Linked DNA regions of Homo sapiens. The protein of the gene in region 2 purifies or fractionates together with the protein of the main gene of each other region. This does not show direct contact. Each region holds a gene or a part of one and is shown on either strand. Other genes may lie near its edges. The genes, in order: MTMR1, LIPC and LMF1.

Region 1 (3,647 bases), on a different chromosome or scaffold from region 2:
CTAGTAACTCAAATGTTTTCGGGATAGCAACCTCTTCAAATCTCATATCGAATTTAAACTATTATGTAACCCTTTGAAGTAAACCTTTTCCATCGAAGTCCAATTGTCCCTTGGTATCGGTGGGGGATTGATTCCAGGACCTCTGCCTCAGATACCCAAATCCATGGATGTCCAAGTCCTTTATGTCAAATGATGTAGTATTTGCATATAACCTAAGAACATTCTCCCATATACTTTAAATCATCTGTATATTGCTTATAATAACTAATACAGTGTAAACACTATGTAAATAGTTGTTATACTGTATTGTTTAGGGAATAATGACAAGAAAAAATGTCTGTGCATGTTCAGCACAAATGCAACCATCCTTTTAAAAAATATTTTCCATCTGCAGTTGTTCGAATCCTCCAATGTGGAACCCATGGATAGGAAGGGCTGACTGTATTTCTAATTAACGTGGACCTATAACCTAAGTGATTGTTTGTCACATCTCAGAGAAGTCAAGTGAAAAGCAGAGACCAATACATTTCCCCAGTTTGTTGTTTTAAGACTACGTTCAGAACAATGTGGATGGTCAGAGACTTCCTAAAGGGACAGCAGTGGCCCATAAATTCTGTGATTAAAAATGAGATTAAGTTTCTTGGCTATCTTGGAATTTTTATGTTGAGCTGGGCTTATTTGTTTATTTTGTACCCTTCTTCTAATAATTTAAGTAGAAATGTGTGTGATAACTTTAATCACGAAGTCATGTAGGACCCACTCCTAATTGATGTATTTTATTCCCAGTGACTTGACTTTGGTAATGTTTACCAAAAACCCTACCTGAAGTACCAGAAAAGAGATCCTGCCTGCAGGATCATCAGCGCCCCTTCCAAATTTTGGGTTAGGATTCCTTACAATCTATTTATTTTGATTCAATCTCTGAAGATAGCTCCCTCTGGTTGGTCCTAGACTGCGTTCAAAACCATTTTTTTTTTTTCCAAAGAACCCTTTACTCTTCCAGATCATGAATCTGTTGGCTTACTAAACTCACTTTAGTCACTCCCTGACAACTGTCCTTCTCAGGCAGGGTTCCCCATATGGAACAATGGCAAGCAGAGGGGTGACTTGATCGGTTCTGCAATTTTGAAACATGTCGTCCCCTTTCTCATGACGCTTGAGTATCTTCCCATTATCCTTAGACTAAAAGAAAAACTCTCCTTACAAGACTGCTCTGCCTGACCCACTTTCCTCTGCAGCTTGGTCTCGAACTGCCCTCCTCTCATTCTGGCCATCCCAGTCACATGGGCTTTCCTTTGGTGGTTCATACTTGACACACCCACCCACACACACACACACACACACACACACATCCCAGAATCTTTGCATGTGCTCTTTCCTTAGCTTGTAAGCAATCTTAAATAGCAAGTCAGCTCAGTCAGCCACCAAGGTGTATGTGTGTAGCCATGTAGCTTAGAGGGAGGGCATGTCAGGAAATTATGTTGCTTAGGCAGGCATCCTGGGGCTCTTTTACTAAGATATTTTTATGGCTGGGGTGAGCATTTGCTAACAACTGCTTTAAATGTTCTCTAACCTAGATTACTAAGGTAATGCTCCCAGCCTTCTCAGATCATGCCTAAGAGCTTTACAAGGTGTGGGGTTTATTTTTTAACAGGTGATATACAATTCAAAAGATACAAAAGCTGTGTATAGTAAAAAATCAGTCTCCTTCCACCCACCACCCTGCCACCCTGTTCCACTCATTTCAGGCACCCACTGTGGCCGATTTCTAATGTAACCCTCCACAGATAGCCTATGCACATGAGAATGTATGTATAGTCCTTCTTTGAAAACATAAGTGGGGCCAGGCGCAGTGGCTCATGCCTGTAATCCCAGCACTTTGGAAGGCCGAGGCAGTTGGATTACGTGAGGTCAGGAGTTTGAGACCAGCCTGACCAACATAGTGAAACCTTGTCTCTACTAAAAATGCAAAAATTAGCCGGTAGTGGTGGTGGGTGCCTGTAATCCCAGCTACTCGGGAGGCTGAGGCAGGAGAATTGCTTGAACCAGGGAGGCGGAGGTTGCAATGAGTGGAGACTGTGCCGTTGGAGCAGGATAAAGTATAAAAGGAGAAATGAATTAAAAAAAAATAATTTCCTTATTTATGGCACGGTATCTGGCTTATAGGTGCCTGATGTATGTTGAATAACCGAGTTTTGCTAATTGTTTAACAGGATATGAGGAACTTGCGGCTTGCTTATAAACAGGAAGAACAGAGTAAACTAGGGATATTTGAAAACCTCAACAAACATGCATTTCCTCTTTCTAACGGACAGGTAAATACACCAGAGTAAACCTTTTCTGCATGCATTTGTGGGGGTCCAAATATCCTATGTTTAATTATTCCTTTTTCCAGAGGTTTTTTTTTTTCCTCTCTTTTTTCCTCTGTTGGTGACTAATATTAGAATATTTGAAATTTGTCAGTTCTGGGTAATGCTTAAGAAAAGCTGCTACTTTGTTGCTGTAAAATTTACAGACTAAAATAGGAATCTTAATACACTCAGCTCATATTAGAATGAAAAGCTTTAATATTGGGTATATGATATAAAAAGAAATAGTAACATATGTGTTTTGTGGTTTTTGTGTCCAGGCACTATTTGCATTCAGCTATAAAGAAAAATTTCCAATTAATGGCTGGAAAGTTTATGATCCAGTATCTGAATATAAGAGACAGGTAAAGTATATTGCTTATCAAACTGAAAATAATAGGTTGAGCATCTTTTTCTCTTCTAAAAGGTTAGAAATGATGTGGTGGAGAAGAAACTTTTTCGAACAAGTTATGCACAGGTTTAACTGCTAGCTTATAGGTTCTCCATCTTTCCTTGATTCTCTCTTCTCCCTGTGCCAAACCTTAGACTTTGTCATGTTTGTTCATCCTGTTTCCAGAGGGTGAGTGGGACTCAAGGACAAGGACGGGTTTAAAAACCAAATTTGCCAGATGGTTTTTATTAGATGTTCTGGTAAAGAATTGATGAGTAAGGATCCAAACCACTGACTACAGTTAGATTCGAAGCATGTGGTGTGACTACATCTGTCTGATCCAGTGTTCCCGGGTCTGGGAACTCTTCAGTGCATTGTCAGCTTCAAATTATTCCACTAAGATCTTATTTTCATGACGTTTGTTTCATGACGTTGTCTCTACCTTATATTTGGTATAATGTTTTACGTTACTTATTTTAGACATTCGTAAGAGGTATCTGTGTTTCTAAAGGACTTTTGAGTATATTCTCAAAAATAACAGAGCTCATTATTTATAGAAAATAGGACAAGAAATATATAGAAATGTGATTCTAGCGTATAATTTTCATGTTTTAGTATGGTTTGGATATTCTTATGCTTCTTTAGATTTTTAGAAATGTCTAGGAAATGGGTTTTACCGAATAAATATATATATTGACTTTTAAGTTACAATAAACAATAAATTATAAACGGATTTTAGTTGCAAATAAGAAATGGATGTACTTCATGCTTAGTACTTTTTCAAAGTGTAAAGTCATGCATTTCACCCTCTTCTTCTTTCTCCAACACCTTACAGGGCTTGCCAAATGAGAGTTGGAAAATATCCAAAATAAACAGTAATTATGAGTTCTGTGACACCTACCCTGCCA
Region 2 (4,351 bases):
TCATTGGCCTCCTTGCTATTCCTGGAGCACACCAGGCATACTCCTACCTCAGGGCCTTTGCACAGACTGCCCGAAGCTCTCCTCCCCAAGACGTCCACAGGGGCAACTCCTTCACTTCCTTCAAACCTTTGCTGAAAGTTTAACTTCCCAATGCAATTCACTCTAACCACTCTGCTTAAAATCCCTACCTTCTCCCCAACCCCCTGCTTTTCTTGTAGTGGTTCCCATTACATTCTACCAGTCTACCTAATTTTTTTTTTTTTTTTTTTGAGACGGAGTCTCTCTGTGTCGCCCAGGCTGGAGTACAATGGCGCGATCTCAGTTCACTGCAACCTCCGCCTCCCAGGTTCAAGCGATTCTCCTGCCTCAGCTTCCTGAGTAGCTGGGATTACAGGCACTCACCTCCACGCCCAGCTAACTTTTGTATTTTTAGTACAGATGGGGTTTCACCATGTTGGTCAGGCTGGTCTCGAACTCCTGACCTCGTGATCCGCCCTCCTCGCCTCCCAAAGTGCTGTGATTACAGGAGTGAGCCACCGCTCCTGGCCAGAAATCTCTTCTTTATTATGTCTACTGTCCGTTATCCAACTCCAGAAGGTAAGAACCTCCACTGATACATAAGGACTTGTATACCCCACGTGCCTGCAACAGTGCTTGGCACCTAGTAGGCATACCAAAATATATAAATGTTGAACAAATGAAGAAAGTTAAAGTAAAACTAGAGGTCCAAAAATATCACAAAAGCCATCTATGGTCGCCTTTTCCCTACCTGATTTTGCTGAGTGGCCTTACTTTTCAGTCCTCTACACAGCTGGAACATTAATGAACACAGAGGGGGAAGAAGTGTGTTTACTCTAGGATCACCTCTCAATGGGTCACTTGGCAAGGGCATCTTTGCTTCTTCGTCAGCTCCTTTTGACACGGGGGTGAAGGGTTTTCTGCACCACACTTTGACCACAAGCATCACCAATTTCACTGAACCCAACAGAAATTTGGACCCTCTGGGGGCTCTCTGCGTGGCAGGGCCCTTTTCTTTTTCTTTGGGCTTAGGCTGCAATTTGAAACACCACTTTCCTGAGCCAGCATCCCCCTTGCAGCGCTGTCACAGGGAGGCTTAGGCAGCCACGTGGAAGCCACCTACCCCGACCTTTGGCAGAATTTCCAAACACAACACAGTAGCTTTAAGTTGATTAATTTGGAACTCTGACCTTGGCCCCAAAAGGTAAGAATACATAACAAGGTATTTTATTCTCAAAATGTGTCAGGATAAGAAGCACTTCTGTAAATCGACCTTTTTAAAATAGATATAATTAGATTTGCAGTTGGGGGCAGTAAAGAAAGGGTCTGAACAGTGGATAACATGTTGAGAGGTTAATTATTAATGGGCAGTCTTCCCTAACAAAGTATCTAATAGGCATTGTGGTCTCTTTGGCTTCAGAAATTACCAAGAAAGCCTGGACCCCGGGTGAAACGGAGAAATGGACACAAGTCCCCTGTGTTTCTCCATTCTGTTGGTTTTATGCATCTTTATCCAATCAAGTGCCCTTGGACAAAGCCTGAAACCAGGTAAGAGCCTGACTTTTCTCCAGAGATGGGCATGAACTTTTCTTTTTAAAACGTGTGTCACAAAGAATCCAGGGGTTTCTGACTGTATGGGACAGAGCTTGCTTCAGAGCGTGCCAGGTGGTTCTATACACGACCTCACAGGTTCACAGGGACACGTAGCCGTTTGTAAACAGAAATGAAATTTTAGAAAATCATCCTCGGATTAAAAGTCTTCTAAGAGTGCCTGCAGCTAGCAGTGAAGTCTCTTGCGTATCTGATATGGAAACAGTCATGCTAAAAGTTATTCAGCGGCAAATGATATGAAAGCGATTCAGATCTTCCTGAGAGTTAATGTGGCATCTAATTTGCAACCGGGGAGCCAGGCTTGCAATGAAATGCTCTGTCGGGTTGGGGTTGTCTAATTGCCTGCCTCTCTCAGAAGAGAGGGGAATTTATGAGAGTTCTATTTCCAGTCAGGTCTAAAGTAGAGATATCATTGCACAATTTCTAGACTTTGTTTTGCTGCCAAAATTTTAGTCTGAGGCTGAAGAATCCAACAGCCGTCCTGCCTGTTTTGTTTGTAAATTCACAAACTAGATTGATGGCGAAAGACAGATCAAATGCCTTATCAGGAAGGTAGTAGAGTGGAGCCCAGCTTCCAGGCTAAGCAGTGGACCAATAAATGACGGATCAGTTAATTGAACAATTTGGCCAGACTAGACAGGTGTTTGGGAATTTGTTTTGGTACTGGTTACTGGTCAGGAGCTAGTAACGCTAAGGTAGAGTCTGAGATTTTTCTTTTCTCTAAGACTAGCCTTGGAGAGAGCTCCGACAACTTTGAGAATTAGAAATTCCCTAACGGGATGTACCTAAAAATTTCAGAAGCTTTTTTCCCCTTTAAGAAAAAGGCTGTTCCTTTGTATTTGACTATTTTACTTCATAGGCCAGTTAATAACTGAGTAGCAGTATTAATTATTGCCATTCACTAAGTATTTTCTGTGCCAAGCACTATACTAATTATTTTTGACACATCATCTCATTTATAAAGCCACATCCAAAAATGACCCTTACATAATAATTTAGAGCCATACAGGTAAAATTGCTGGTAATCTTTATTCCCTTGGTTCATAGTGATTTTGCTAAAGGGCCTTTCCTGCCCTTTGCCCCGGAATGTTGTATTTGTTTGTTTACTTTTTAATGAAGTTTATAACACACTTCTAGAAAAGGGCCTCTATCATAAATCCTCAATGAGTTCTCACAAACTGAACCAGTACCCCAAAGCCTTCCTTGTGTGCCCCTTGAGCCTTAACATATATGATTTTTTCCTTTGGGGAGATTTTTCATTAATAGAAACACATCAGTTGCTCTTTTGCGTCTGGCTTCTTTCGTTCGACATTATGTTTGTGAAAGTCAACCATGCAGTTTCGTGGAGTTGAGGCTCATTCATTCTCACTGCTGTAGCATTCCACTGCGGGACCATGCCACACTTCCTTTATCCATTCTACTGTGGATTGGCCAGGACTGTTTTTGCAATGGAGCCATGGGAATTGGAAGCTGTCAGTGCTGAGATAGAGGTTGAAGGGAGGGATGGCCTCCCCCAGGCTTCTGGGTATTGTCCAGATTTTCCTTGAGCAATCTCATTGTCCTGATCAGCCTGCTTCTTTCCCCGGGGCCTAGTTTGTGCAAATGCTGAGAGAAGTGGCCACTATTAGCAAGAGGGTTCCTCAGAAAAGAGGATCCAAGTCAGGAGGCCTCTTGTTCTCTTGGAAGCAGAATCTCTTGGCAGAATTCTTTCTGCAATGAGTGAGCCCAATCTGTGTGCATGTGGCTGGTATGATGTCTTTCTGGGGAAACCGCAGGGAAGCCGGTGTCCTGTGGTGGAGCCCTTGTCAGGAAAGTTTCTACACCAATGGTTCTCAACAGGGGCAATTTTGCCCTCCAGGGGACACTTGGCAATGTCTGGAGACATTTTTGGTTTTTGGTTGTTAAGACCAGGGAGAGAGTGCTTCCCTTCCAGCATCTAGTGGGTAGAGGCCAGGGAAGCTGCTTCACATCCTACAATGCACAGGACAGCCCTCACAACAATGAATTGTCTGGCCCAAAACATTATTAGTGCAGAGGCTGAGAAACCATGATCTATGCCAAGCTTCAACTGTCACTCATCGAGCACCAGGAAGTACTCCCTCAAGGACCCTTCCTCTTTAGCCCCTCCTCCCAGCCTACTTCTTTTGAGTATTTATTATTAATGACATCTTACTAATGGAGTCACTAATGTGCTGCACACCCAGCATGTGCCAGGCACTCCACGGACATTTTATCTCATCCTCACCATATGGTTGAGTAAGCTGGCAGTTAAGTGCCTTGCCGGCGGTCGCATAGCTGGTCAGGGCAGAGCAGGGAGAGGTACCTGCAGCCTCAATCTGTCTACTGAGGCCGCAGTGCTCTGTGTCGAGCCCACACCCAGTGATTTGACAGCCAGAGGTTTCTAGAAAAACATTCTGCTCAGTTCCTCTCACAGAGAGGGAGATTTAGACAGTTGTTCCTGCCCTTCAGCACTAAGGGGGACTGGATAGCGTGAGCTGCTTGAAGCCCACATGGCACATCACACTTATGCCCAGCCCCAATGCCTGAGACCCAGGTTCCCCAGTCGGTGTTGCCATGAGAGCCAACGCTGCTCCTAGACCCTGGCAAGTCCCACCTTCCCGGTACTGGGCCCACTATCAACAGGCACCTTCTCCCTCCCCTCCACCCCAGCCTCAGCTTGCAAATCCTAGGAGCAGCTGAAAGCTACCTATTCAGTCAGTCC
Region 3 (3,647 bases), on a different chromosome or scaffold from region 2:
CCGTCTGCTGGGGTCACCTGGCTTGCACTTGAACTCGTAGTCCTCCCACATGGCATCGGGGGCGCTGGCGTTGGAGCTGGCTGTGCCCTGCAGGATCACCTCCGCCCGCTCCTTGGTGATGCTGCCGGGAGACCGAGGCAGGCCAGGCCCACGTCACACACCGGCTGGGCCGAGTGGGGTGCATGGGTGGGGGGGGTTCCCCGACTGTCCATCCTGGCCCAGGGGGAGGGCTACAGCCTCCACCTGCCTCCTGGTCAGGGGCTACTGAGAGGCTGGGTGGGGCTGAGGAGAACTTTTGGGAACTGTGGCCCCAGGGTCTCATTCGAGAACACCTTCTCTGCCCGTGAAGACCCAGCTGCAGCCGCCATGTGCCCCATGCCCCTCGGCAGCTCAGGGTGGACATGAGGGGGACAGAGGCCAAGGGGCTGGCCCCAGGACAGGGAGGGTGCCTGTGTTCAGGTGGCACTACCTGGCATTCCCACGCAGGGGGTTGGGGCCTGGTGGCCTCTCCCTTACGCCCCCAGTAGGCATTCCAGGGCCGCAGCCCACCTGCCTGGTGACCTCGGGCCCTGCCCCTTTGCCTCATGGGACCAGGACGAGGAGGCCTGCGTGTCCAGGCCCGGTAGTGGGGACAGCACGGCCTGTGCCTGGGTCAGGCTGGGGTGGGGCAGGGGACACTTGGGGTCATGGGGGCCTGCACTGTAACCCCACCTGAATGTGGCTGGTCAGGGCTGAGTCTCCCCATATACCCAGCTCCGGGGGACGGGGACCCCAGGCTCATACCTTCCGAAGGCCCCGTAAGTGTTGACGATGTGAAGAGAGTTGAAGTGGGTGTTCATGACCTGCCTGGAGCTCAGCAAGTTGAGGACCACGGGCACGCTGAGCCAGGCCAGCAGGACGCCCAGCGAGACGTTGGCTGCACGCCGCACCACGGAGCCTGGCAGGGGAGTGACATCTTCCAGGTGGGGCTCCCAGCTGCCCCGTGGCCTGTCCCTGGGGAGACCCCAGCTGCTGCTCCCTAAGGGTCAGCTGTCCTGGGTCCCGGGGACGGAGCAGCACCCGAACTCACACACCTTGTTCCTGGCACGCTACACTGCGGACGGCGCTGACTCTCCTCCTACCCTGGCGTCCCCAACCCACACGGGCAGGCTGTGGGGCTGGCACCACCCGACTTTCTCCTGCCCTTGGGCAGGGGCCCCCAGCTGAGCCACCTACCGAATCTGGGCTCGGGCCGGGCCCCTCGGATGTCCCTCTGCATCTGCAGAACTCGGTCCTTCAGGCTGCCTGGCCCAGAGGGGAACAAGAATCCCAGGGTGGCGTCATCAAAGCAGGCCAGGCTGGGCACCATAGTCAGCCAGTTCAGGAAGCTGAGGTTCCCGCTGACGATGAGGACGGCCTGTGGAGACGCCGCAGCTGAGTCTCGTGCAGGGGCTCGTGTGGGGCCCCTGGGCAGCTGGCGCCTCTCTTCCTGGAGCAGGGAGGGGGGAGGGAACCTGCACCCAGCTCTGCCCTTGCTGTCCCTCGGGCCCAGCATCACAACTGAAACCCAGCTGTGCCTTCATGGAGGGGACAGCAGATGCCTCAGAGGTGCCTTCCGGCAGGTGCTTCCAGAACATTCCTCCCATGACTGCACATTTCTGTGCAGGTTCTGTCCCTTGCTTTAGTGATCCGCAAGGCGGGGGCTGGACCAGACCACCAGACCCTGTGCCCTCCTGGAACTCCTCACTTTCAGAGGGCACCTGCCGGGGTCATGCCCGGGGAAGGCTGGTGAGTCCAAACAGAGGAGGCTGTGCTTGGAGAGTGGGTACTGGGGACGCCCCTCAGCCGATGGGTGACACAGACAACAGGGGCCGTGGGGGGGCCACCAGTAACGCCCCCACTCCAAAATACGAAATGCAAGGAAGTGAGACACAGGCACAGGACCCTGTGCCACAGAGATGAACAGCAGGAGAGGGGAGGGGCTGCATGCAGGGCTGGCTGAGCAGCACGGCTGGGAGAGCTCCAAGGAAAGACTCAGCAGCAGCAGTGAGTAAACCTGCGGCAGGAGGGACTCAGAGGGACCCGCTTCTGGACATCCCCGCAGGCCAGCGATCGTTAGGTGACGAAACTGGAGATGGAGCCGCTGTCCCTGCAGCTCCGTCGGGTGATATCACAGGTGTGCTGCCAGACCTCACCCCTGCCGTTGCCGTGGAGGCATCAGGGAGACAGGGGCAGCTTGCGTGGCCGGTCGCCCTGCATGGGTGATGGTCTGCAGCTGAGCCGGTGGACCCTGGGCCGGCAGGACCTGGGTGTGGCTTCCTCAGACAGCTCCGTCAGCCAGATTTGATGCATCAAAGCCCAGCCTTTATCCCCGTAACTCAGGAGGAAGGTTGAGGGCAGGGACATCGACGTCTAATGAAGGGACTCGTGAGGGCAGCCACATCAGTGTTATGGGCGATGATGGTGTTTTATGAACTGTGCACTCATGGCTCTCCCTGGGTGAATTGGGAAAAATAGCTTTTCTGGTTCTGAGCCCCAAAACAGTTATTTCTTATTCTCCACTGTCTACAAGGTTACTAAACCCCTGTGCCAAAAACAGCCCCGCCTCGCCCTGGCTGGGGTTAGCCACCTCTGCCACCAGCTCCCCTCCGCTGGTCCAGACCCCCATGCCCTCCGTCCTGAGTGTGACCAGGGCTGGTCTGGGGTGGGGTGGCTGGGAGCCCCTGAGCTCCCGTGACAGGGAGGGTGCAGGGCTAGGCACTGAGGTCTGACCTTTGGGCCCACTCTTGGGGATGCTCTGGAGGAGATGCCACAGGTGACACTGGAATGTCCTGGTGGGAAAAGCTCGGGTCTTTCTGGCCCTTCGCTGTGGTCAGCCTGACTGGCAGATGGGACCAAAGCGACCTGGGGCACAGCCTGAGCCAGTGCCCGTTCGGATGCTCGGCCATGCCAGAACCATCAGGAGCTTTGAGGAACACCCAGCCCTGAGCACCTGCCTGCCTGGGTCAGGGTGGGCCCTGCCTGAGTGTATTTCCAAAGCCCCCTTGGGTCATCCTGCTGTGGGCTCAGTGGGGAACTCTAGCCTCAGGGAACTAGGGCTCCAGAGAGCACAGATCTGGGCATCAGATCCTGTTTCTAAGAAAGCTTCGGGGCTCGGGGCCCTGCTCCATGCAGAGGCATCCCCAGCTGCGCCCCGTTCAGCTGCTCTGGTGCATCTCTCGCCCTCCATCTGGTCGGCTGTTTTGTTATGAAAACGCAGTTCCGCGTAGAGTGCACGGCCTGAGCGCTCCTGGGGGACCTCGCCTTCCTTGTTTTTCTTCTAGCATCACTGAGCCATCTCCTCAGAGGGAAATCAGTCTTCTCACTGCCCATCTGTGCTCGCCCCCGCCGGCGGAGTCCTCACAAGGCTGTGCGGCCCACAGATGACCCGGCCGGTGGCTGGGAGCGGAGGCGAGGCCCGAGGGGGTCCCCAAGGCCGGCACAGGAAGAGGAGCTTGAGGTGATGGAATCCTGGGCCCAAGAGACGGAGCAGCAGGTGTTCCGAGGCCAACGGCGCATGGCCCCAAGAAGGAAGAGTGGCATCTTTGGATGCAGCCTCCTGCCTGTCAGCTGCCACGGAGAACAGGTGGCTTGTGGGGACCCTCTGCCGAGGACACGCCCGCGCTCAC

What was found.
Region 1: the proteins of LIPC (region 2) and MTMR1 purify together in Homo sapiens (affinity purification with mass spectrometry; 2 studies listed by BioGRID and IntAct, with this or other methods). This does not show direct contact.
Region 3: the proteins of LIPC (region 2) and LMF1 purify together in Homo sapiens (affinity purification with western blotting, with the first as the bait; one study listed by BioGRID). This does not show direct contact.

What each region holds. Positions count from the first base shown.
Region 1 is NC_000023.11:150,727,896-150,731,542, forward strand, and holds part of MTMR1 (phosphatidylinositol-3-phosphate phosphatase MTMR1), read left to right. Parts: intron 1-2,213; coding exon 2,214-2,315; intron 2,316-2,629; coding exon 2,630-2,713; intron 2,714-3,574; coding exon 3,575-3,647. UniProt on the Homo sapiens protein: Lipid phosphatase that specifically dephosphorylates the D-3 position of phosphatidylinositol 3-phosphate, generating phosphatidylinositol. Could also dephosphorylate phosphatidylinositol 3,5-bisphosphate to produce phosphatidylinositol 5-phosphate.
Region 2 is NC_000015.10:58,430,555-58,434,905, forward strand, and holds the start of LIPC (hepatic triacylglycerol lipase precursor), read left to right. Parts: upstream 1-1,436; 5' UTR 1,437-1,478; coding exon 1,479-1,566; intron 1,567-4,346; exon of another isoform or gene 4,347-4,351. UniProt on the Homo sapiens protein: Catalyzes the hydrolysis of triglycerides and phospholipids present in circulating plasma lipoproteins, including chylomicrons, intermediate density lipoproteins (IDL), low density lipoproteins (LDL) of large size and high density lipoproteins (HDL), releasing free fatty acids (FFA) and smaller lipoprotein particles.
Region 3 is NC_000016.10:869,946-873,592, forward strand, and holds part of LMF1 (lipase maturation factor 1), read right to left. Parts: intron 1,397-3,647; coding exon 1,216-1,396; intron 938-1,215; coding exon 784-937; intron 122-783; coding exon 1-121. UniProt on the Homo sapiens protein: Involved in the maturation of specific proteins in the endoplasmic reticulum. Required for maturation and transport of active lipoprotein lipase (LPL) through the secretory pathway. Each LMF1 molecule chaperones 50 or more molecules of LPL.